Regions from separate parts of the Homo sapiens genome. Here all the other regions are linked to region 4. The links come from fine-mapping of genetic effects on gene expression. A gene starts in region 4. Each other region holds a variant in brackets. All regions are shown on one strand. Distances are from middle to middle. Region 1 overlaps STAMBPL1 (STAM binding protein like 1). Region 2 overlaps STAMBPL1 (STAM binding protein like 1). Region 3 holds the start of LIPM (lipase family member M). Region 4 holds the start of ANKRD22 (ankyrin repeat domain 22). Region 5 overlaps LIPM (lipase family member M).

Evidence for each region. PIP is the estimated chance that this variant, and not a neighbour inherited with it, causes the effect.
Region 1: its variant is fine-mapped to the expression of ANKRD22 in whole blood (TOPMed, PIP 0.91).
Region 2: its variant is fine-mapped to the expression of ANKRD22 in whole blood (TOPMed, PIP above 0.99).
Region 3: its variant is fine-mapped to the expression of ANKRD22 in whole blood (TOPMed, PIP 0.98).
Region 5: its variant is fine-mapped to the expression of ANKRD22 in whole blood (TOPMed, PIP above 0.99).

Annotation. Positions count from the first base shown.
Region 1 is chr10:88,903,191-88,908,190 of GRCh38, reverse strand. STAMBPL1 (STAM binding protein like 1) reads right to left here. Exons shown (of 11, transcript NM_020799.4): 3 at 2,531-2,748. Among named protein-coding and RNA genes, the nearest start is that of STAMBPL1, 25 kb to the right of the region's middle. The variant G/A (reference allele first, on the strand shown) is at 2,224.
Region 2 is chr10:88,888,809-88,893,945 of GRCh38, reverse strand. The region is part of intron 1 of STAMBPL1 (STAM binding protein like 1); the gene reads right to left. Among named protein-coding and RNA genes, the nearest start is that of STAMBPL1, 11 kb to the right of the region's middle. The variant T/C (reference allele first, on the strand shown) is at 3,045.
Region 3 is chr10:88,799,756-88,804,892 of GRCh38, reverse strand. It overlaps LIPM (lipase family member M), which reads right to left and starts at 2,163. Exons shown (of 9, transcript NM_001128215.1): 1 at 1,850-2,163. The coding sequence starts at 1,996. The variant T/A (reference allele first, on the strand shown) is at 2,529.
Region 4 is chr10:88,849,318-88,854,454 of GRCh38, reverse strand. ANKRD22 (ankyrin repeat domain 22) reads left to right here and starts at 2,611. Exons shown (of 6, transcript NM_144590.3): 1 at 2,611-2,868. The coding sequence starts at 2,848.
Region 5 is chr10:88,815,563-88,820,699 of GRCh38, reverse strand. It overlaps LIPM (lipase family member M), which reads right to left. Exons shown (of 9, transcript NM_001128215.1): 7 at 3,813-3,884; 8 at 2,804-2,875; 9 at 154-468. The coding sequence ends at 199. It overlaps ANKRD22 (ankyrin repeat domain 22), which reads left to right. Exons shown (of 6, transcript NM_144590.3): 6 at 1-804. Among named protein-coding and RNA genes, the nearest start is that of LIPM, 15 kb to the right of the region's middle. The variant A/G (reference allele first, on the strand shown) is at 1,918.

The DNA of each region.
Region 1 (5,000 bases), 54 kb before region 4:
TTAGGAATTCATTATTTTTCGTCACCGTTTGAGGAACAAGAGACAGCAGCAGTGAAAGGAAATTCCTACAGCAAACCAGGTGCATCGCTTCCAGGTAAAGTGAAGAAACTGCTACCACAAAGGCAGGGAATTCTCTTTTTTATGCACTGATGTATCCTCAGCCTGAAGAATAGCATCCAGCTCATAATAAGTGCTCAATAAATATTTGCAAAATGAATGAATAACCCTTCCTTGATAAATCATAATGAGCTGTAAATGCTATTTCTGATCAAACAATATGCCTTATACTTACTGATTCTGTAAATCAAATCATACACACATATACTCATCATTTAATTTCATCTGATCACAAGGTTATAGGTTAGACAGAAATGTTAGCATAATTCCCATTTTAAATGAGAAAATTAAGGCTTAAAGAAGCTTTAAAAGTTGTTAGCTATCTAAGCCTTTATAAATAGAATAAATTCAAAGACATTTAGAGCAGAGGGGACCTCAGAGATTTTCTCCCATAAATCTTTCATTTGTAGATGAGGAACTAAGGCCCAGGAAGAATAAGTGAATTACAAATTATCATACAACTAATAATACAAGAGAATTCAAATATTTTGATTACACAGTAATTCTGAGATATAGGGGCCTTTTCCTTTTCACCAGGCTCACAATTCCATAGGAACATATGCAAGATCAGAGCAGAAGGTGAAAAAGAAATATTATTAATTGGTAACTTATTCAGAAACAAAAATTATTGGAAAAGTTTGGCTATCAATGGTGGAGAATAACTTCTAATTTCATATTTATTACTTAACTTTCTAAAAACAAGTGATTTTCCCAGGTAGGGTGAAGGTTGCCAACCATTCTCTAAATTTTCAAGTTCAGTAACTTGAATAAAATGCAGATCTCAATTTTTGCATACCATGTAAACTGCCTTTAATTTTGCCCTCGGTAGAATCATGGAAGGCAATTTTTAAAATATTGTATCTTTCAACTTCTTAAATGTTCTCAGGCTAAGCCCCTGACTAAGCTAGTGATATTATATGTGAAATAAGCCAGGCACAGAAACACAAATACTGCATGATCTCACTTACAATGTAGAAGGAATCTAAAATAGTTGAATTCACAGGGGGGCAGAGAGTAGTCTGGTAGCTATCAGAGTTCCAGCAGTTGAGGATGGGGGTGAGATGTTGGTCAAAGGATACAAAATTTCAGTTAGACAGGAGGAATAAGTTCAGGAGGTCCAGTGTATATGATGATTATACTTAATAACAATGTATTGCATAATTATGCAGCTTGGGTCTGGCACAGTAGCTCATGCCTATAATCCCAGGACTTTGGGAGGTCAAAGCAGGAGGATCACTTGCATCCAGGAGTTGGAGATCAGCCTGGGCAACATAGTAAGATCCCATCTCTACAAAAATAAAAAATTAGCTGAGCATGGTGACACATGCCTGTAGTCCCAGCTACTCGGGAGGCTGAGGTGGGAGGATCACTTGAGCCAGGGAGGTCGAGGCTGCAGTGAGCTATGATTGTGCCACTGCACTCAGCCTGTGCAACAGGGAGACCCTGTCTCAATAAAAGGTCTGTGAGGTAATAAATATGTTAATTGTCTTGACTTGGTCATTCCACAATATAAGCATATATGTATCAAAACATGTTGCATACCACAAATACATATAATTTTTATTTGTCAACTTAAATAAAATTAATAAATAATAAGCTAGCAAAAGTAATCGGCATGTGACTTTCAATTAAAAAAAAGAAGGTTCATCTTAGAAGATATAATTATTGATGACAGGACATCCTTTCAACTAGTAAGTTACCAGATTTATAGTAAGGAAAGACGAAGTCCCATTTCTGTTAACTCTTAAACTAGGATATGTCACTAACAAATATCTGTCTAATAGGAAACATGATACTCTGACATGGCTGTTTTGATGTAGCCACTTTTACTCAACATTTTGACAGCTCTTTTGTACATAGTGTTCTTAATAGCCAAATAAAATGTTTTTTAAAAAGAAATAATAAGTGCTATATGAAACTTGAATGAGTTTCCTGAACCTATCCCTGAACCTGAATCAGATCTTTCCTGTGTCTCCCAACTTGTCCCCTAGACTCAACCCACCAAATCAAATTTTTTAAATGTTGATGGCATGTTCTAGGTGCTATAAATGGAGCTGCACTGTAGTTCCTGCTCTCATAAAGCTTCCATTTCTGTCGGGGAAAATC[G/A]CATGAAAAAATAAATTATATTTAAGAAGAGTGAAACATGTATTAAATAGATTACTATGCTGGCCTTGGAAAGGAAATCTGATAACCCTGAGCCTCCTGCCCTCCCTGACCCTAAGCCTCAGAGATGGTGTTGGGATGCCTGTGAGTACATTAGTTGGTAATTTAAAAACTTGAACATTTAATGCTCCTAGAGACTGTGCAATTGGTCTGAATATGAAAACATTACTGATACCCAAACTGCCACATCAAAATAACTATGTAAATATTTTTCCAATTTTCTCACTTCAGAGGCCTTTAAAACACTTACGTTATAAATTTATTATAAAGAACAAAGGCATTTTCCAAATTTCCTTCTTCCAAATACACAGACGCCATCCTCTCCATCTCTACTCCAGACCTAAAGTAACGTCGTGGAGTGATGTCTTCACTGATGGTGATATTACAACCAAGCTTGCTTAGGGCACGGACTCGCTCTTCTGGGCTTAGGGAAACATCTGTATGGTCAGGCATAGCAGCTAACTTTTTCTGCAAAGCAAAATTTAAATCTCTGATTAACTGTTGATTATAGTAAGAAAAGGATATGACTAATATTATGGACATATGTTCTTTATGAGGAACCTAACACCATTACCTAAGGAAATCTTTTCATAAGTTAATGATATAATCAAAGTAAAGCATTTTTGCTTAAACATGCTTTATACAACAAAAATACATGGTTTATACAACAAAAAGACAAACCTCCAAGGTAAACATACAGTTTTATTGGAGTGGGATCTCACTTTAGGTTTCAGGGTATGCAAATGTTTCAGGTCATTTTAGGTAAAATATCATTGCTCCTCATATCCCTGTGCATGCTTCTATCTGGGATCATCTGAAGCAGGTCATAAGATGAATTCCTGCCATTGTAGGGTTCATGTCAGTCTACTCTGAAGGGTCTCCAAGGAGGTAACTTGGATTCAAGTTACTATAAAGATTCAATTCTATTCCAGAATAAGTGTTGTTTAGTAAGAAATTTTCAGGGCTTCTCTGCATCTTCATTGAGTTAAAAAAAAAACAACCCACAAGTAAGTCCTGGAGAAGCCTTTTCAAGCATAAGAATGCCCCTCCCATTTTTTTTAACATAAAAAGAATCTCAGACCTCCATATAATAGTAAGTACACTGTTAAATTAGTCCTTGACTAAGAAAATAATGATATGTTACTAAGAAATGTCAGTGATAGCAATTTGAATTTTATTAATAAAAACAGCATCTATACACTTTTGGTAAAGCATAGAACATATGCAATTCAGAATAATTATTCAATAAAAAGTCGGTGCTTCAGAAAGGAAATTTTCTCTGTTAAGTGCCACATAGCAAGTATCTTAGGCTCTGCTAGCCATATGGTTTCCATTGCAACTTGAATTCAGCTCTCAGCATGAAAGTCACCATAAACAATATGGATAAAAATGACCCTGGCTGTGTCCCCTAAATGTTTATTTATAAAAGCAAGTGGGTGGTTTGGCCCTTACACCATAGTTTGCTGACCCCTGCTTTAGACCAGCATGTTTCAAAGCATGGTCCATGTACTGGCAGCATCAGCATCAACTGGGAGTTTCTTACAAATGCAAATTCCTAACAGGTCTCACCTCAGACCTATAGTCAGGATCTCTGGAGTTAGGCAGGAGAATCAATGTTTTAATCCATCTTTCCAGAGGTACTTATGCCTGTACAGTTTGAGAAGCAAGGCTTTAGACCAACCCCTTCTACCATTGCTGGATGCTCCCAGAACAGAGTTAGTCTAGAGCAAATTTAGCTTCTCAAGGCCGCCTTGGTCAGTTAAGGGTAGGTTGCAAGTCTGACTACTGTGTGGGTGGAGCACTTCATTCAAGTCTGTAGAAAGCTATAAAAGAAGTCAAGGTAAGCATACTTTTAGTCTGGCCATGAATTACCGAGCCAACCTTCAGGGACAGGGTATAGTGAATTAGATATCTGGAGTTCTTCCAATGCCATCTGGTCTACTTTGGTGGTAATTTTATAGCCAATAGAACCTCAGAGATCTGAAATGATTCTTGGTCCTAAAGGTTTAATATGTAACCAGAGACCCATAAACTTGTTTCTCAAGGCTTCATTAAGTAAGAACCATACCATGTCCCTTGTACATTTTATTACGTGGCTTCCCCACATCAGAGACAGAAATTGGAGTTTCTGAACTTTGAGCCTCGGGCTTCAGTATATAGTCTTTTCAATTGAGATGTCTCAAAAGCTACAGCAATCCATCCACTTTTCCCTAACCACACTCGGCTATAGAACTCAACAGCACCAAAAGAAAATATTGTCATTTGACACAGATAATTGCTTCAATGACATCAGAAAAATGACTAGAAAAAAAATCTATGAAAATCAGAATGTTCTCTAAAGGGGGTTCCAGCCTCTCATATGTATAAAAGTAATGTATTCATATTTTACTACTACTTAGTCCACACTGAGTTATAATTATTTCTGTACAAGTGTATCTGATCCCTTATGAACTCCTTGGGGTTTTAAAAGGGATCATTTTCCATTTATCTCTGTTCCCTAGAATGTAGCATATTCCCTGCCACATAAGTGATGATTAATAGGTATATCAAATAAAAGACAGACGGAAGTGAGAGAAGGAAGCAACAAGAGATTATAATTAGTTTTTTTTCCCTGAAAATGAAAATTAGATTGATTTTTCCTCTTCTGAATGGACCTTCCCAAATTTAAAACTGATTTCAAAGATAAGCTGGAAAATAACCTAAAGTCTTCATCAATCTAT
Region 2 (5,137 bases), 39 kb before region 4:
CAGTCACACTGCAACACTAACGACTTGCCTCTCATAATAATCAGGAAAATCCAAGAGAAGGTCACATCCTTGGGCCTTGGACAAGAATGAAAAAATTTACTGTGGAAATGAAGATTTCAGTTCAGCATTACAACTATCTGATTCATTATCTCCTCCCTGCCAAAGAAATAAAAGGACATTCATTCCCTTCACATTTTTTTGTTGGAGAGGAAATTTCACTCTTGTTGCCCAGGCTGGAGTGCAATGGTGCAATCTCAGCTCACTGCAACCTCCGCTTCCTAGGTTCAAGCGATTCTCCTCTTTCAGCTTCCTAAGTAGCTGGGATTACAGGCATGCACTACCATGCCTGGCTAATTTTGTATTTTTAGTAGAGACGGGGTTTCACTATGTTGGCCAGGCTGGTCTCGAACTCCTGACCTCAGGTGATCCGCCCGCCTCGGCCTCCCAAAGTACTGGGATTACAGGTGTGAGCCACCGTGCCCAGCTCCCTTCACTTTTTTCATCGGCAGAATGATTCAGTGTTTGTGGACTGACTACATGGTATATGTAGTTAAGAAATTCAAATCCATAATTATTCTATCTAGACACAGTTCAATTCAAAATATTTGCTGGTTTTTAATATAAATTCTACATTTTTGTGCTATATCAAAGGCATTTCATATGCTCATCAATGTGCTAATTTTAGATTCTTTTCTAAATGTGATGATTCAATTAATATGCATTATAAAACACTTGGCAAATGAATTTGAGGTGCTGGAGAGAGATTCATATTTGTACACAGATATTTTTTCACCACAAATTCATATGAACTTGCTAATTTGCTCTCCTCCTGTTAAAATACTAAACATTCCTGGAAATAATGCATTTCTAAAGATAAGCTACCCATAAGGCACTAAACTTTAATGTACCTTTTAATATACTTCCTTTTTTATTGGAATTTTGCTTTTAAGAAAATACTATCCAAAAGATACTTAGTTCAATGAAGTATAATGAGTCACAAATAAATGTTTGAAATAGCATCATTTTCCTGCCTGCCAGTTGCCTGAAAGCTCAGAAATGTAGTTAGTCCTTGGGCATTATTAATCAATTTTATTTAATTTTCATAACTTTCTTAAGGACAGTAGTTCTACAAAATGGACTGAGTCCAGCACTATTATTCAAAAGCAAAAGAGGGCCATCCTGAAGTACTTGTCATCCACTGCTTCTCCAGTGTTCTCCAACCACAAGAATCTTAACTGTTTAACATGTCACAGCAGAGGCTGTATTCATACATTTGGTTTTGCACTGGACAATCTCTTCAATGCAGTAGGCAGAAACAGAAAAAAGTTTCCTTCTTAACTTTCCCTGGCAATCCATTTTAAAGAGTTTTCTTGAAGAGCTCCTTATTCTGGCAAAGTTGTTAGCAAGTGGTCATCTGCTGTCCAAATTTGCTCACCATTCATCCCCTTCCTACCTTCCTACCCTAGAGCTGACATCCCCCTGATTTGGATGCCATGTTCCCTCTGGGAGTGGTTCCTGGATAACTTGCCTGCATTACAATGACTTGGTGGAGGAGGGGTGTGCTGGCCACACACACACACACACACACACACGCACACGCACACACACAGACACATACACAAACCCCACAGATTTCTAGGCCCCACTGAGTCAAAATTTCTGGGAAGGGTGCCCCAGGGATCTCCAGCCCAGGATGTTTTTATGCACATTAAAACTTGAGACTCACTGCATTAAACAGTTACAAACCCCCACTAAGCACCTGGCCCTGATCAGCTGAACTTTCCCTATTTAAAATCAACTCCTGCCTTGGCCTCTCTGAAGTGGAGGTGTTTCCTTTCTCCTCCCTCACCCTGCATCTCAAATATTAATATTTCATCTTTTTTTCTTGATATATCTTTATTCTATAAGACACCTTTTTTTTTCATGGCTTCAGCTTAATTTGAGCTTTAGCATTGTACCTTCAAATGTCCTCCATCCATTTCCACCAGGATACCCAACTGTTATTTTTCATTCAATACAATCCAAGGCTAAATGGATCTTTCCTGTAAAAACTGATAGCTCCAAATAAATTTATTTATTCATTCATTTATTCAATGTTACTTATAAAGCCCCTACTTTGTGCTTTTATGGACCTTACATTCTGCTAAGGACCAGGAATGGGGCAGAGAGGTGTAAAAATAATAAACAATTATCTACACAATTATCTAATAAAGATTGTGGTGACTGTGAGAAAGATGAAATACAGAAAACAATGAGAGTTATGCATTTTTTTGGCAAAAAAATACCTTATAAGTGATGGTGTATCCTCCATGATGTATCAGGAGACATATGTTATTGATTTGTTCAATTATTAATGATGTTAATCGTGATATTTGTTTAAGTTATATCGGTCAGGTTTCTCCACGATACTATTTTTCTCTTTATAATTGAAAAGTATCTTGTAGGGAAACTATGCAAATATACCATTGCCCACTAATTTTAGCATTTGAAGATTTTTTTCCCTGAGACAATTATTGTGGTGTTTGAAAGTGGCCATTTTTCTATTTCTATTTTTCCTTCTATAATTATTAGTTCAGCTGACATTCTTGCTTGAAAGCTGTTTAATTTTTACATGGAATTTTTAAAATTTAAGCTTTCAAGTGGACCTATTTTCTTTATGGTATCTAGGTTTCTCAACATTCTTTAAAAGGTCTTCAAACTTACTCATCATAAACAATTTTAAAATATGTCTACTGATCTTTTCTTCTGGTACTTCTGTGGTTAGTCATTTTTGGATAAATACATTTGACCTGTGTGGAATTTATTTTTTGTAAGGAGTGAAAGAAGAATATGGTCCTTTCTTGACCGCTAGGCAGAATGGCCTTTTTCCTTCTGCCTCAATTATAACTCGGAATTGACTCCAGTTCCATGAAATATACTTAACTTACTTAATTCCCAACTCTTCCCAACAAAGTGATCTGCCCAAACGAGGCACTTAGTACATATTTATTAAACACACATACTCTGGAAGCGATGGATAAAGTTACAGAGAATAGAGGAATTGG[T/C]AGCCCAGAGAGGAAGCAAGTATGCAACACTGGAATGAGGAAACCCTTGTCCAAACTGAAGAGCAGTGAAAGAAATGGAGAAGGACAAACAGTTATTGGGAAAGATTCTGAGGAAAAACCATAGAACTTGGAAGCTAAGTGGCTATAATGAGATACAGAAGCATAAATAAGCAAATATATTGTAAATGTTGGCATCTAAAAGAATTGGAGATGGTGATGCTTCTGACTTCACTATCAGAGGTGAAGAATTGTCTCTTTCATCTCCATGGATGGTACCAACATCCAATCACTTACACAAATATCTGGCAAACGCTGATATTAGCAATCCTGCACCTACCCCTTCCCTTAACCCCACATCCAATCTATCACCTGCATGTGCAGATTCAGATTCACCCTCCAAAACATCTCTCAAAACTGCAGGTTTTCACCGTCTTTGCGGGGAGGCTCCTTAATGTACACCCCACCCTTTTCTCTGCCTGCATTGCTAGAACTGCCTCCTAGTTGTTGTATTTGTTTCTATCTTGCTCCCCTTTGATTAATTCTACCTGGTGAAGAATCTACCTGTAGTGATCTTTTAAAAACCTGATTCAGATATTGCCATTCCTTTGCTTAAAGCCCTTGAATGATGTTCTATTGCTGTTAATATCCTATAACCTTAATAAGTCCCACAAAGCTGGGTCTGACCAGACTGCCTCCTTAGAGCCTTCTTTCACACCACCTCCTCCACTGGCTTCTTTCAGTTGCTTAGATGCACTATGCAAAGTCAATGCAAAGGCACCCCATCCTCAGTTCATACTTCCACTTTCTACCCATCTTTCTGGTGTTAGCTTAAGCATCTCTTTTTCAGGCAAGTTATTTTTGACCATCATCAGACTAGGTCACTCTCTTGATTACATACTCATGAAGAAACATCAAATAAACCCAAATCAAGGGATTTTCTAGGAAACAATCAGCCAATGCTCTTAAAAAGTGTCAAGATCATGAAAGACAGAAAGACTTAGGAACTATTGCAGATTAAAAGAGACTAAGGAGGCATAACAAATGAATTCAATGTATGATCCCAGAAAGGATCCTTGCCCAGAAGGACTTCGGTGAAATTTGAATAAGATCTGTAGATTAGACAATAGTATTGTGTCAGTGTTAATTTACTGATTTTGATGACTACTGTGGTTTTGCAAGGTGTTAATATTTGAGGAATCAGGGTAAAGGTTGTATAAAAACTTTGTGTACTGTTTCCACAATCTTTTGAAAGTCTAAAATTATTTTAAAATAAAATATTCTGTAAATGCTTGAATAGTACTTTTAAAAATCTTTTCAACAAGTAAAAGAATAAAAAAGTTTGCACCACTGACAGCTATAATATTTATTATCTGTAAACTATAGGAAACATTTGCATAACAGTAAGAAAAAGAGTAAAAATGGGCAAGTGACATGAGCAAGTAATTAAGAGAAATATAAACAGTTAAGTCACAAGAAATAAACATCTAAATTCACTAGTAATTAAGAAACTGAATTTAAGCCAGGTATTTAATGTATTTGATTGGTAAAATGTATATGATTGGTCCAACTCAATATGGATGAGGATTGAAAAAAATGTCAGTTTTTAAAATAATATGCATTCCTGTTGACTAAGCAATTCCAATTTTAAGATCTCCCCATAGATTTCCTTGACCATTTAATATATACACACACACTGCAGCATGGTTTTAAAATAAATAGCCATCAAAAGAGGAATACTTAAAATAAAGAATCTCTATAGCATATGAAACTGTTAGAAAGGACTTACATCTATTTGTACTGAACCAGGATGTCATCCAAGTTAGAGCATTAAGTGAAAACAGCTAGCTGTGGAATAACATATAAAATATAGCTCCATCCTTGTAATATGAATACAAATGTATTCATTAAGTATACTGGAATTTTTTAAGAAACAAGTCTGGAACAACATTTACTGAATTTTTCTCAGCTGTTCTCTCAAGGGTGGGATCATGAGGGACTTTCACTTTTTATTTATTCATTGCTGTACAATTTGTTATAAGTATGTATCACTTTATGTAATCAGACAAATTATACTTTTTTATAAAACCTACAAG
Region 3 (5,137 bases), 50 kb after region 4:
GTACTGCTCCTTGAAAAGCAGAGCTAATTCATAGGCAGTGCTCCCAGAGTCAGCAGTGTATGGGCTATTGGCAGCTGTATTTATGCCTACTTATAACTATTAATTTCATGCAAATTAAGGGGCAGGTTATTCAGAAATCTCCAGAAACGGGACAGTAACTTCTGGGCCATTGCCATGGAAAGGGGTACTAACTCGTGGGTCATTGCTATGACATTTGTAAACTGTCATGGTTCTGGTAGGAGTGTCTTATGCTAATGAGCAGCCGGGGCAACTAAAGGATGCCTTCCAGGCCACTGCTGGTTCTTGCTGTTTTTTTTTCACCACCTGCTGGTTTGTGCTTGTTTATTCACTGTATCCTGTTGGGACCAGAAAGTAAGTCCTGCCCTTCTCCTACCTCAGAACCAGTTCAAACTTGCAACTACTTTTATTCTATTTTGTTGAATTTACACCAATCGTACGAATTTTCTATTTTACTTTGTTTTTTTCCAGGCATAGCTGCTTAAAGGCAGAGCCCAATTCAATGGGCTTTAGTCTACAGACTCCTGAAGCCCCAGTAGTGTATAGGTGCTGGGTACACGCAGTGGGTGGGGCCCAGGAAGATCATCTCTGTCTGCCACTGCAGAGATTCCCCTCACCTCCAAACCAGAGGAATTCAAGTGGGACAGTCTCAGGGCCAGAAGGATGACTCCTGAGGACTGACACCAATGTGCTAACTACCTAGACAAACCACCTAATCATTGAATAGTCAAAAGAAACCTGATATTCAGCACCATGCAGATACAGAATATTTCTATTTCCTCTCAGTTTTTGAACCCATATAAGGAAGCTTCTGTAGAAAGGGTCTTAAATCGGTATAAATACATGTTAAAGTTCCATTTTCTGAGAGTTTGTTAGATAAATCTCTGGAACATGAACATTGCACATGATCGTCTTACTCATCTGGAGGTAGCCTCTCCTCTTTCTCACCTGGGAGGGTTTATTGCGTAGTATTTATAATTATAGACTTTGTGTTTAGGCAGTCCTGAATTTAAATAGTAGCTATGCTATTACATTGGTATGGCCTTGTTCAACTTGTTTAACCTCTTTAATCTCAGTATCTAGATTTGAAATATGTGAATGATCCTATCTACTGCACAGGGCAATGAAATTGAAATAGAATAGTATCTCTGCTTGTGTCATAATCCCTGCTATGGGATAAGTGTTACCATAGGGTGACCATTACTAAAACCCAGCTTAGAATTTGAAAAGCTACCAAAAAAAAAAAAAAAAAAAACCTCCTGGGAAAACTAAAGAGATGTACTGTCATTTATGCATTTTACTTGTAGGAGGTTCTGTGTAGCACTAACTCGGGGTCCTTTTATTGCTATTCAGCAAAGTACCAGTCCAGAAACAGGATAAAAAGAGTAGATTAGAATGGTATAAGATGCTACTAGAAGTGTGTGCCCTGATAGCAAGAAGCAAAGGCTGACACCTTTGCAATATGGAAAAAAAGAATAAAAGAATAAAAGGTACAGACAAAATGGAAATAATCAAGGGACTGGGGTGAACTTAAAAGGCCTTAATTACTTCTCCACTCATAGGATGAACCAAAGTGTTCAAGGAAAAGTTAAATTGTGTTTGAAGCTCAAAGAGATTAAGTCATTTGCCCAAGTTTACTAAATTTGTGTGAGGAGACCCCAGGTCTACTGACATCCAGTTTAGCATTCTTTCCAGTACAATTTGCTACTTCATCACTATGCTCTTCTAGTATGAATCACCACCATGTATAAATATAATACATAATGTAAATAATACACAGATACAAACGTTAACATGTTAAGTACCTCATTTCCCAGAAATCCCAACTTACAATATTCATGAATGCTTCTGGGTCCACAGCTTTAGTTGGCATATGTACTGAATTCACATTTCTCTGGAACATATACGCCACCAGAATCAGAAGCCACATTTCCATTCTGTGTGAGACAATCCACTGTCTTGACAAGGTTTCCAACATGGTCCAACATCTGCATTTATTTTTTCCTGCCAATGTAACAACTAATTCTAAAGTAAGAAGAATTTGTGGGTTTAAAAACTCTTCACATATTTTCCTGCTGCAATTCCCTCTTCCAATTCTGAAGCAAATTAGGCAAGCTTAGTTGGTAGGGAAAGAACACAAAGTAGGCTGGAAACATTGCCTAGGATGTCCCAATACTATCTGACTCCTCCCATTCCTCCCTCACACAACTTGTAATCCCTAATCCTTCAACTTCCAGGTGTGTAGAACTTTCTTTGATGTGACCTGGAATTTTGTGCATTTGATACAGCCTATTAAAACCCCTGTACTTTATCACCAGGTAATAAGGAGTGTAGGGAACCTCTTTCCTTCCACTCCTAGATTTTATCTTTCTTTGATAGATAGCAAAAGATGGAGTCTACAGAAAGCACTGAAAGTTTCTATAGTCATATTCTGGGTCTTCAATGATCACTGTTTTTTGGTTAAAGATAAGTGTTGTGATAAGTGCTTTTATTTAAAATATCTAAAATTT[T/A]ATGGACATTTTCTACTTTTAGGGATGGGTGAGAACATTGATTAGAAGAAAATGAATCTTCCATGTTTAGCCCATTTCGTCTAGTTCAATTAAATAGATATACACAAAATTTTTATTTTAAGTTGTAATCACTAGTTAATCACTGGGATATGACTAGATGGATTATCTAGTAAATAAATCATCAGCTATTGTGTATTTTAGTTTTTTATATATATTTATTATATTTTAAGTTCTAGGGTACATGTGCACAACGTGCAGGTTTGTTATGTAAGTATATAAGTGCCATGTTGGTGTGCTGCACCCATTAACTTGTCATTTACATTAGGTATATCTCCTAATGCTATCCCTCCCCACTTCCCCCACCCCACGACAGACCCCGGTGTGTGATATTCCCCTTCCTGTGTCCAAGTGTTCTCATTGTTCAATTCCCACCTATGAGTGAGAACATGCAGTGTTTGGCTTTTTGTCCTTGTGATAGTCTGCTGAGAATGATGGTTTCCAGCTTCATCCATGTCCCTACAAAGGACATGAATGCTTCCTTTTTTATGGCTGCATAGTATTCCATGGTGTATAGGTGCCACATTTTCTTAATCCAGTCTATCATTGTTGGACACTTGAGTTGGTTCCAAGTCTTTGCTATTGTGAACAGTGCTGCAATAAACATACATGTGCATGTGTCTTTATAGCAGCACGATTTATATTCCTTTGGGTATATACCCAGTAATGGGATGGCTGGGTCAAATGGTATTTCTAGTTCTAGATCCCTGAGGAATCGCCACACTGTCTTCCACAATGGTTGAACTAGTTTACAGTCCCACCAACAGTGTAAGTGTTCCTATTTCTCCACATCCTCTCCAGCACCTGTTGTTTCCTGACTTTTTAATGATCCCCATTCTAACTGGTGTGAGATGATATCTCATTGTGGTTTTGATTTGCATTTCTCTGATGGCCAGTGATGATGAGCATTTTTTCATGTGTCTGTTGGCTGCATAAGTGTCTTCTTTTGAGAAGTGTCTGTTCATATCCTTCGCCCACTTTTTGATGGGGTTGTTTAAGGGATAATATCCAGAATCTACAAAGCTATTGTTTAAAATAATGGGTTGCAGCCTAGTTATTTTCATGAACTAAATGTCTCAGTTCAACTGAATGTGAGGCAAATGTGAACAATCCCTTAGCATACTAATGATTGAGCAGGTCAGGAGGGTTGATTTATTTGTCGTTTTAAGTAAAGAATGTGTTAAAAGTTAAAAAAATATTACTTAAAGTGAAATATTTCTCTATTACATCAATTCTTCAGGGTTGAGCTAACAGCAGCCACACCAATATGCAGACTTTTGGAATGTGGTGGGTGAAGGAGCCAGATGCTGAAACCAGAAAGATAAGTCTGTCAGAACATATCTTCCCACATGACTCAGCCTCCTCCACTTTGGGCTGGTTGCATGGGTGTGAAGAGGTAAGTCTGCATCCTTATCTGGACCAGTGTGAATGTCACTAACACAGCTAATCTGATGCCAGCTAGAGGAGCCATTTGACCTAATTAGAAGAGCAGAGAAAACACTTATCCAACACTCTGCAGAGCCCTGTGTCTTCAGCACCCCATGAGTTCTCCCTCAAGGTAGGCAAGATGAGATTTCAGAAAAGAATATGGGCTCCCATCACTGACATTTTAGGATTTGTAAATGTTATATAGCCAGAAAAAAAGATATCATTCAGCTTTCATTTTCAGAAATGTGAAGACACATTAAATGACTTGCCCCACATTGCCTAGCTAGACTGTGGCAAGGCCAGAACTGAGATTCAGATATTTTAATTTGCTGTTTAGCATTATGACTACATGGGAAAATATATAACACTTCGATGTCCTCTTCTCCATCAAAGATGAAGCCTAACCTACTAACAGGAAGCAATTACATCAATCTCTGTGAACTGTCTTTTTAAAAAGTTATCTTCTGGATTTAAAATTCAGAATAATTCCCAATGATGTCATTATGAGTTTGACAGATACCATCTGTCAAATACCATCTGTCAGATACCATATTACTTTGCTGTAATATGTTCAGGTAAGATCAACTCCCGCATTAGATTAATATGCTTGTGAATACTGTAGAGACTTTTTTAGGAGAGAGTTTATGGCAATAAACTGATTGGTTCAATCCCCCACCCATTCCTTTTTATTTTATTCCTTTTATTTTTTAGCTTTCTGCAGCTGCAGCCTTGGGTACTGAGTACATTGCAGAGAAAATATAATTAAATTTGGCTCTCAAATTCCTGGGGAACTTTATAAGGTCATAACTGTCATTTTGGAAGCAGGCAAAGTCACTTCCCAAGTCAGCTCAAAGAGCGACATTTTGAGCAAATATTAAATAAGTGCAGTTCTTCCCCACTGCAGAATTTTACAACACCCTTACCACCTTAGCAATCCCCAGCCCATGGAGAGCATCAGAAACATGATAAAAGAGATGGGAGGGGGCCGGGCGTGGTGGCTCACACCTGTAATCCCAGCACTTTGGGAGGCTGAGGCAGGTGGATCATGAGGTCAGGAGTTTGAGACCAGCCTGGCCAACATGGTGAAACCCTGTCTCTACTAAAAATACAAAAATTAGCCAGGA
Region 4 (5,137 bases):
CTGCATTTACAGCCAGGATCAAAGGATGCCACTAATTTTAAGTCCCTAGTGTTTAATTCAGATTAAACACTAGGTTTATTTCTTGACAGAAGACATTTGTCTTCTTGACAGTGTTATTTCTTGACAGAAGACATTTACCTGTGAAAGCTGTTTTCTGGAACTTCTTTTCTTTACCTGTCTTTGTAATTATAGGCTCAAAATTGCCAGAGGAAGAACCCTAAACACTTAAAAATATATCTGTTTATCCAACTTCATTCTGACAATATGCCTCCGTATTCCAATTTGACACTATAGTTTACGAAGTCCTCTTCCTTCACCTTTAATTCTCCTTTTGGCTTAGACTAGAGTTTCTCTACATTAGCACTCTTCTGAGCTGGGTAATTCTTTGCTCTGAGAGGCTGTCCTGTGCACTGTAGGATGATTAGCAGCTTCCCTGGCCTCTGCTCCCCACATTAGAGTACCATGCTCCCACTCCTAGTTGTGACCACCAAAAATGTCTCCAGACATTGCCAAATGTCTTTAGTTTCCAATAAAACGACGTTCTCCATTAAGCAACATAATTTTTTAGTGTATGTATGTCCCATATGACATTTCAGAAATTTATCTGAAATTCAAATTTAACTGAACATCTTATCTTTTTCGTTGCTAAATCTGCAGTCTATCTGGGGGCGAGATAACCCCTGGTTGAGACCCAATGGCCTAGAGTTAAATCCAAGTGTTTTACAAATAACAATGAGTCAACTGCTTTTTTCATTGGTTTGTTTTTTGAGCTAACCCTACATCATTTGCAATTATAATGAGTACTGTTCCTTTAGAACCAGATGTTGTCAAGAGATGCAGAATCTAATAAAATGAGTTTTGATCCTGATTGAAAGTTAAAGAAACATTTAGAGCTCAGTCAGGGAGGAAAGAGCTTGAAGAAGAAAGCTAGCAGCAACCTTAGGAGAGAAGCAATGACAGTGAAGAGTTCTGTCCACACAAATTAGTTGAAAGAGGTTACAAAAGAGGCTACCAGAGGTTACAAAATATTGCATAACAGAGTGAAGTACCCAATGGATATACCATTAATGTTTTTCTAAGTCAATGGGAAGACACTTAAATGTCTTAAGAGTCTACAGAAATACAAAATCAAACCAAGCCAAAGAGGAAGTCAGCTGCAATTTTAGTGGGTATTGCAGACTTCCCTCTCCTCCAACGGAAGAATTAGCTAATTCTTAAACTCCAGAGAGGCTGGCCTCGATGTCAACTGCATAGTGAAACATAAAATCTTTGAAATAATTATAAAAATAGCTCAGTATATCCACCAGTGGAGTAAGAAGAATTTCCCTGAATATTTATAAGCACAGGCCTAGTATCCTGGTCACTAGTTTCTGGCCACTAAGGAGCCTCAACTGATTGGGAAAATCACATCAATTGGTTTGAGATGGTTGAACTATTTCTTCCATGATATTATTGAGCAAATAGGCTTGCTGCCCCCTGCTCACAGAAGCCAATATCTGGACACTGGGTTTTGAGGAAAGAAAAACTTTATTGCAAGACAGGTCAGCAAGGAGACAGGAGGTGGGCTCAAATCTGCCTCCCCAGTTTGGAATCTGAGAAAATGTATGGCTTAGAGGGTGAGGGAAAGGATTTAGGAATGTTGGTTTGGCAGGGACTGATTGAAGGGCTTCAAATTTGACCACTAAAGGTAAGGTATGTTGAGGCAGATTTCAGCCCTGGATCTTTTGGGCCAATGAGCCCCTAGCTTCTGAAAGAGGTCCTGCATTTAGGTTCCCGTCATGTCCTTGTCTTCTTGGTTCCCAGGGGAGGGATCATTTGTTCTAGGTTCTGTTAGAGGCAAAAACATTTTTATTGTGCATGCCTGGGCTAAATGACTTACAGTTTTTGGCTCTGTTATATCTACAGAGTAAATTGACATTTGTTATCAACAAAGTACGGCCCATTTGGGCTGGTCCCATGGTTATAATGGGTGTGTGGACGGTCGAGTGTTTCAATTCTGGGAAAGTTTGATGTGATTGTATTCAGTTCAAGGAAAATGTGTGAATGATATCATATATAGCATATAAAATGTTTACAATATTTAAGAGATTGGGCATACTAGCATGTTTGATAAATAAATTGATGATGCAATTTAAAATGCATAACAGAGTATTTGATTTTAGACTTATGATTTTTAAATTGAATATTATAAAGTAATTTGGCTAAATGTGTGAATAGTATTGGAATATTTAAAACAACTTAAGATTTATTATGTTAGTAAATTTATTAGTTTACAAAACTGCATAAATAGCTGGAAAAGCGTTACTTGTTAGGCTGAGAATTTTGAAGATTATTTTTCAAGTTCTTTGCCAGACACGTGTGGCTCTCACAAGTAAGTTTGTTGGTCTCTAGCCTTTCTCAATGGCCACTGAAAACCAGATTTTGATTACGAAATGTCTGAAATACAGTATCTTGGTTTGAACCGTGAGTCCTTCCTGCCAATGTAAGAACTTTTCTTCCTCCCTTAACTTTGCTTCCTTCTTTCCTGCATGTTACCACTGGCAGAGCAAATATGACTCAGAAACCGGCTCCTCAGGGTTGTAACATTAGATGATACAGGCTTGGGTCGTTACACATGACACCAGTGCCTTTGTTTCATTGGGCTGGGCTCTCTGGAAGGTGTGCTGCTGCCTGAGCTGCTGGAAAAGCACTGACAGGTGTTTGCTAGAAAAGCACTCCTGGAGCTTGCCACCAGCTTGGACTTCTAGGGACTTTCCTCTCAGCCAGGAAGGATTTTGATATTCATCAGAAATACCTCCAGAAGATTCAAGGAGCTGTAGAGGTGAAGTAAGCCTGTGAAGGACCAGCATGGGAATCCTATACTCTGAGGTACATCACCTTTCTGAAAGCAGAGTTCCAAAGATGTTAAAAGTTACTCATGCTTTTCAGATGCAATTTTCTATCCCTGTTAATATATTTCTGTTTTGTCTGTTCAACTCCCTGGGGGAGCATTAAGTCAGAAAAAATAAAGTCCTATGTGTTATTCTTGTTGATATTCTTAATAGTTTAAGACAAAGTATTTTGTAATTCTAAAATATTAGCTAGATCTAAGTTGAGATGAATATAATACACATTTCATAGTATCTGGATGTTTGCAAGGATAATTTGGACAAAATCGAGTTTGAGTTGTGCTTTTCTCATGACAAACACTCAGAGAAAAAGAGAAAATTGTACTCAATTGGATTTTCTAAATATCCAAAAGATTGACTGCCTCTTTTATGGAACCACATGACCAGAGTAATGCCTTTCAGCTTGGTATTTGAAGGGAGATTCACCTTTAGTAAATATTAGTAAAGACTATCACTATGAAGAAGAGGAATAATAACATATTTTGATGATTTGATTATTTTCTTTTCACATCTGATAAATACTGAGGTACTTTTACTTGTATTGGAAGTAACTTATTAGAATCAAATGGATTTTTAATGATGTTTCAAGAAAGTACAAGCAAGGAATGTTTAGACAAGAGTACAAGAGGTGTAATGATGTCATTATACATAATTTACTCTCTCTCTCCTCTGACACAATTAACTGGTTAATCTGCATTTCATTGCAGATGCTCAGGGGAACCTTCTTGGATAGTTTTGATCTAGTATTAAAGACAGTTTATTTGCAGTTATTTCTAATGCCATGTGTGTATATATCTCTCCGTGTGTGCAAATGCAGTGTTTGATTGGTTTATAACTCTAGGTATGTCTTGCTCAGTGATTTTAGCCTCATGAAGGGATCATATACATGAAAATGACAAAACATATAGTGCTTTTAAATGCTACTCTGGTAACTCTCAAACTTTAGACTGCCCAAGTGTCAGGGAGAGAAGTTTGTTTGAAATGCAGTTTCAAGGGACTCCAACCCAGAGAGTCTGTTTCACTCAGTCTATGGTAGGATACAAAAGTATACTTTTTAAAAGGAGCATCCCAGGTGGTTCTGACATAGGGGTGATCTGTTTACCACCATCCTGAGAAAGAAAGACTGCCACAGGCCAGTGCTTTCCCGTTTTTAATGTCTATACAGATCTTCTGAAGGTCTTGTTTAAATGCAGATTCTTAGTTTGTAGACCTGGGTGGGACCTAAGATTCTGCATTTTGGTTGCTTTTTCAGATTGCATGTGGGAATTATATGTGATTTGGAAAAAGGAAAAAAAAAAGCCTAGTCTCATCCTCAGGTATTCTGATGTAGAAAGTTGGAAGTAGGACCTTTCATCTATAGTTTTAAAGAGTTTGAGACTCTTTAAAATTAAATAGTAATCTCTTAAATATTTAAACATAGCCTACTCATTTGTAATATATCATTTGCTCTGTGTTTCCTAAGGATAAAGATTGTGAGCTACTCATTAAGGACAAGAAAAAAGCCTGCTGGATCCCTGGTCCTATGTTGCCTGGAAGAATCTATTCAAAAAAAAAAAAAAAACTTCCCCCAATTTGAGTGCGGGAAGCTCCTCTAGATTGGGGACATAGGGTTATCATTTTTCCTTAGAGCTTTGCAGTGCTAATAGTTATGCAATATATATTTTTAAGAAAGAAGGAGAGAATGAGGGAGGATCCCAGAGAGCTGGTCCTGAAATCTGCACTAGAGGATAAGCTTAGAGCTCAGTGAGAGGCCCTAATTTTGAATAAGTAACTCCAACTGCGTAAGATGGACTTTTAAACAAGGCTGATTCATTTAAACCCTTATCAAAGGTATTTGTTCATAATATTTACAATAGCAACAAACATGTATTTAGGGCTTCTTATAGATTAGGCCCTATTTTAAGCACTTTATATATGTATTAACTCATTTAATACAGCAATCTTGTAAGAGTCACTTTTAGTATCCTTATTTTACAAATGAAGAAACTGAGGAAAAGGTAGTCACTGGCTCATAGTTACACAGTTGAAAAGTGCTTATTGGCTGGAGATTGGTGGCTAGGATGAGTCCTGTGTTTACTCATTCAAAGAGATTCTTCTTACATCACTGCTGAACTACTAAATTTTTCTACTACTTGTTATTTCAACAGATATGTCATGCTCCATAAGAGAATTGGTCTTAACCACTCTGGTGTTCTGCCACTGTTCTAACCAGGATGGTGCCCTGTTCCCTTAGTGGAAAGAATGAGTAA
Region 5 (5,137 bases), 34 kb after region 4:
ATAGCATACAAAACCTCTATTTACCTAATAAGTACTTTAATTTACAGAAAAAAAATGTAAATGTAAGTGTCGGATTTAGTGCCAAGTGCAGGGAATCTGAAAAATGTATACTAGGTCTCTGCTCTCCGTAATTCTGCCTTCATGGGTCCTAGCCCCATCCCTCAGGAGGTTGTCCTAAGATCGTCAGTGTCAGATGCTTCACAATACGGCCTCACACCGTCCCTGGGAAAGGTTGGTCTCCTCCTGCTGCATCAGATGGATGATTTCATTGTACATACGGTGAGGAGCATCCAAACCCCAGATGAAATCCACGTGAGCCCATTCAGGAATATTCTTATGGTAGATGAGGTTGGTCACCTCAGAGAGCAGCATTTTCACGTCTTCTGGATTTGAAAGCCAGTCCTGACCTCCTGTCCACATTGCTGTAGGGACCGTCATATCTCTGACTCTGTACCTTACAGGAGTTGGCTAGAGAAAAGGAATAGTTCTTAACTCTAGGTAACATTTGGACTTTCAGGCTCATAATTTATGTTTCAAATAGACATAATAAACATGCCATCTGTTGTGGTGAAGGGTACATGGGTGTTAGAGCCACACAACTCTGTTAAGAATTTCTGTTCCCGCCCTTACTTTAAGGTAAAATTACTTAACATTATTGAACCTCAGTTTCTTCTTCTGTGACTGGGGATAATATCTGTAATAACTTGCTAGATCAAATGACAAAACACATAAAAACATGTAATGCCTTGTATTTCTTTTTTCTTCCTATTAAATATTTTGTAAATAAATTGTTTTTAAAAATAATGCCCCTGTTCTTTTAAAAGATAATTTCACAAACATTTCATGAAAGAAGAATTATATTCCACAGAGAAAAGCAAGGAATCTGCTGGGAAGGGCTCTGCATCTTCACAGTCTTTATGTGATCCCAGGCAGCCTTTGAGGCAGACCCGGCTTGACTGCATTTGCCAGAACCATGGCCTATGGCACTCAGGTAATTTGAGCTAAAGGGAAGTAAAAGTTAAATACCTGCTCCAATCCTTATTCCTCACCCTTCCCCACCAAATATACCAATTAGTATTCCTAATACCTGGGAACTTTCCGTATTTATGCAGTGTTAGTAGAATTAGCCTAGCCGGCTGAGCCCTTGAGATTAATCAGCATCCAGAACTTTCCTCAGAAGTGGTAAGGCCCATTTCTTACTCAGGAAATCCACCATGGAGTCTTGGCTCCAATCCTAGATGCTCTGGTTTCTCTTTGTGGCTCAGTTATGGCCTAATTTGGATAAGGAAGGTTGAAAAATTCTATGGGGCTAGTAATTTTTTTTGTCATCTTACAGGTGAAAAGATTGAACTGAATGTCATATCTCGCTCTGAGTTTCTGTGATTCTATGATTTTTTTTGTGTGTTTGTTTACTCTTCCCTTCCACTCCCATTTTCTGGTGCCTATTCTGCATGAATCAATTTCTCTAGAACTCAGTCCATTAAATGTTGATAAATTAAAGCCATCTTAGGGCCGGGCACAGTGGCTCACGCCTGTAATCCCAGCACTTTGGGAGGCTGAGGTAGGTGGATCACTTGAGGTCAGGAGTTTGAGACCAGCCTGACCAACATGGTGAAACCCCATCCCTAAAAGTACAAAAAAAAAATTAGCTGAGCATGGTGGCGTGCACCTGTAGTCCCAGCTACTCGGGAGGCTGAGGCAAGAGAATGGCTCAAAGCTAGGAGGCAGAGTTTTCAGTGAGCCGAGACTGCGCCACTGCACTCCAGCCTGGGTGACAGAGCAAGATTCTGTCTCAAAAGTAAATAAATATAATTAAAAAAACATCTTTGAACAGAAATACTTTCTCTAAAGACATATTTTGGGAAACAGTGAAGAAAGACTTCAAGAGAAGCAGCTGATACCAGAGATTGAGAGTTC[A/G]CTATCCAGGGGCACTGCACAGTTTGTCCAGTTTCCTAGCATTTTACATCTAGATAGACATATGGCAGCGGATGTTAATTTATGATGTGAGGGTCTCAAAGAAAGACTAAGCTGTGTCTAATCTGCCCCTTCCAGTATTGTTTCTATGGTAAATATTTATTTACATTCATACACATGATTACCAAAAATCTTCAGAAGATTTTATGTTCTAAAGGGCATACCTGTGCAATTCTGAATCTCCACACTTTGATATCTAATTTTAGTTCATAGCATTAGCTACATATTTTCTTGGGTAATGTAATAACATTTTTAAAAAATGTAACTTGCAAATTACAGATTCATTTAAAGTATAACTAGGGAGAATGCCTATGGATTTTCTAAGCCCAAAATTTTTATTTTCAAGGTAAAGAAATTGAAGCCTGAAAAATTAAAGCAGCCTCCCTCCTATTACAGAAGTTTATAGTGCAGAGGCAAAACTTACACAGCAATCCTCACTTGCCATTTAATGTTCCTTTTACTGTGCCATGAAACAAACTTACTGCCACCATCCCATTTTTTTTAATTCTAAAATAATCCTTCTAGTATCCACCATAGACTACACTCTTCTCTTGACTAAATCTACTTCATCTTGCTCCTGAGAAGCCCAGTACCTTGTTTAGGGAGACAGCCTCAGCTAAAAAGGCCTCCTACTCCATTGTAAAAGCAGAGAGGTTTCTTGGATCAGCTGTGAACTTAACCATTTTCAAATGGAGTCAAACATGAACCATTATTTTCTGCTTAAATTTTCATATTTTATTCCCATATCTAGAATAAACTGTCATTATAACGTCCCTGTCATACATTTCCAATGTATATATTTTCAGCAGATGGTATTTGATTTTCTTACCTGATTGCATTTTTCCAGATTTTTGGTCTCACTCCCCCAGTCAAATGCCCGGAGTTCACCAGAATTCACTGCCTAAAAGGAGACAAAAATTTACAAGGAATTCCAACGTCTCAGTGGATAAGCGTGGTGGGGTGGTGGAAATGTGCTACCCAGTGTGCACTCATGAGGGAAGGAGAGAGCAATGGTTGAGCTGCTCTTCCATTCAATGTTGGGATAAGCGTCTCAGGAAAATGGTAAGACAAGAATGAGGCCTTTTGAGAAGAAAGAGGGACTACATAAATTCTTGATCATTGCATTAGCAACTCCAGGAAGTGCATCTTCATTGTAATTAATGTGAGTGGGTATCCTCCACAACTGTGTGGGCTACAATGGGGAATCGTGCCCTGGAATTGTGCAATGTGGTGATCCTGGAAGATAGCAACCAAAATTTAATTGAACTTATAATTCTTCTCTGGTTTTGATGGTACAATTGCTCTCTCTCTCTCTGTCTCTCCCTACCTGTCAACAGAGAGAACTCTCTCCTTCCCCCATCCCTCTCTTTCACACACACCACATAGACACACAGAGGTGTGTGTTTCCTGTAATTGCAGGTAAAGTTTGCAGTGTGAAGGACTCCTGTGAATATCTCTTTTGACAGACCCCACATTAGCATTTTTGTTTCTACTTGACTGTATTGTTGGAGGAGCTGAAGAGAAGATGTAGAAACATAATTATCTCCAGCCACATCTTTGAGGTGTCTAGAGACAGAGAGAAGTCTCACTTGGATCATCTAAATTCATACTTTTAAGATCTAAAGAAGTTCTTAGGCTACTTCTGTCCTTTCTTCCCATTTCTTGAAAAGTTTCAGTGATCTAGATCAAATTCTCCATCAAAATAGCATCGACGATACTGCATTTCATCTTAGAATAAGTGTGAAATAATCCCTGGCTTATCTAAATGGTGTCCTTTGACTATTCTACACAAAATATAACAGGACATTTAGCAAAGACTGCAAATTCAACATTCTTACCTGGCTCCAGTGTAGAATATTTTGCACAGATGTTCCAGCAAGAGTGTGGGCAGCATATACACTTGCTCGGCTCTGTAACAAACCATGAGTATTCTGGGGGACATAGAAAAACTCACAAGATGTATACCCTGTCAAGACCAAATCTCCAGGGTGTCAGACTAAGAAATGGTAACATTATTAAGTTATCAGCAATTATCTATGAAACAAAAATATGTACATGCACGTAAATAAAATGTCATTAAATGTATTGCCAGACACCGGTATTTTTCATCTGAGAATAGGTTCTCATCAGAGATCTGGCCCCTAATTAAAAAAAATTTTACTAGTGATATTTAGGATGAGGGCTCTAGCATTGGGCCTGTATTCAAATCCTAGTTCTGCAGTTTAATTTTTAGGTGAATTTGAGTGAGTCACTTAATCTACTAAATCTTAGTATACTAATCTGCAAAGTGGGGATATTAATAACACTCATAGGCTTGGTATAGGTAATAAATTAGCCTGATACATAATATATACTTTTCATATCCTTACTATAAATCAAATTATTAATCTTAAAGAAGAAGAAAAAATATTCAGAATTAAGGAAATGTTGCCCCAGCTGCTGGGAGTGCTGCTGGCAAACAGCCCTCCACTCTCAGTCTGCTTTGAGGATTGCACCAATTGTAGGCAGATACATTGCCCAGTGCTACCCTGTTACTGGTATGGCTACATTAAATGACTGACTGATATGGTGTATAAAGACCCAACCCTCTCTTCCTAACTTGAGACGGTTCTGAAGGGTCATCCTATCTTCAAAAATCCCTGCAGGATCAACTAAGTCTCCTATTGAGACTGCATCACTACTTGACTTTTTCACCTACCTAGTCCTGTTTCTTTTCCTTCTCTAGGTATTATCCCTAGAGCAGGACCCAAATCATTGTTCACATTAACCTCCATCTCAGAGTATGCTTCCTAGGGAACCCACCCAGTGATACCAACTGGTAGCCTAAGCCAAAATGAAGGTCCCTGATGTTCCATCAAAGAACTTAAACTACAAACCTACAGGACCCCAGTGCAGGGTAGAGGTGGATGATGCATGACAGTTGTCTCTGTTGTCTAACATGTGCTAATTGCTCTTTTTAATTTAATTCACTGTAGTAAAGCTGCTTTCAGACCTCTTCCATCTATAATCTGTGATTTAATATCAGCAATGCCCTTATGTTAACCTTGTTTCAGTCCATACTGAAGCATTTCCCTTATTTCCTTACAGTTTGCAGAGAACTGAGTTACTGAGAATATATCATTACTCTGAGTCTTCACTGGCATTAGCTCTCCCTCCAGGGGTG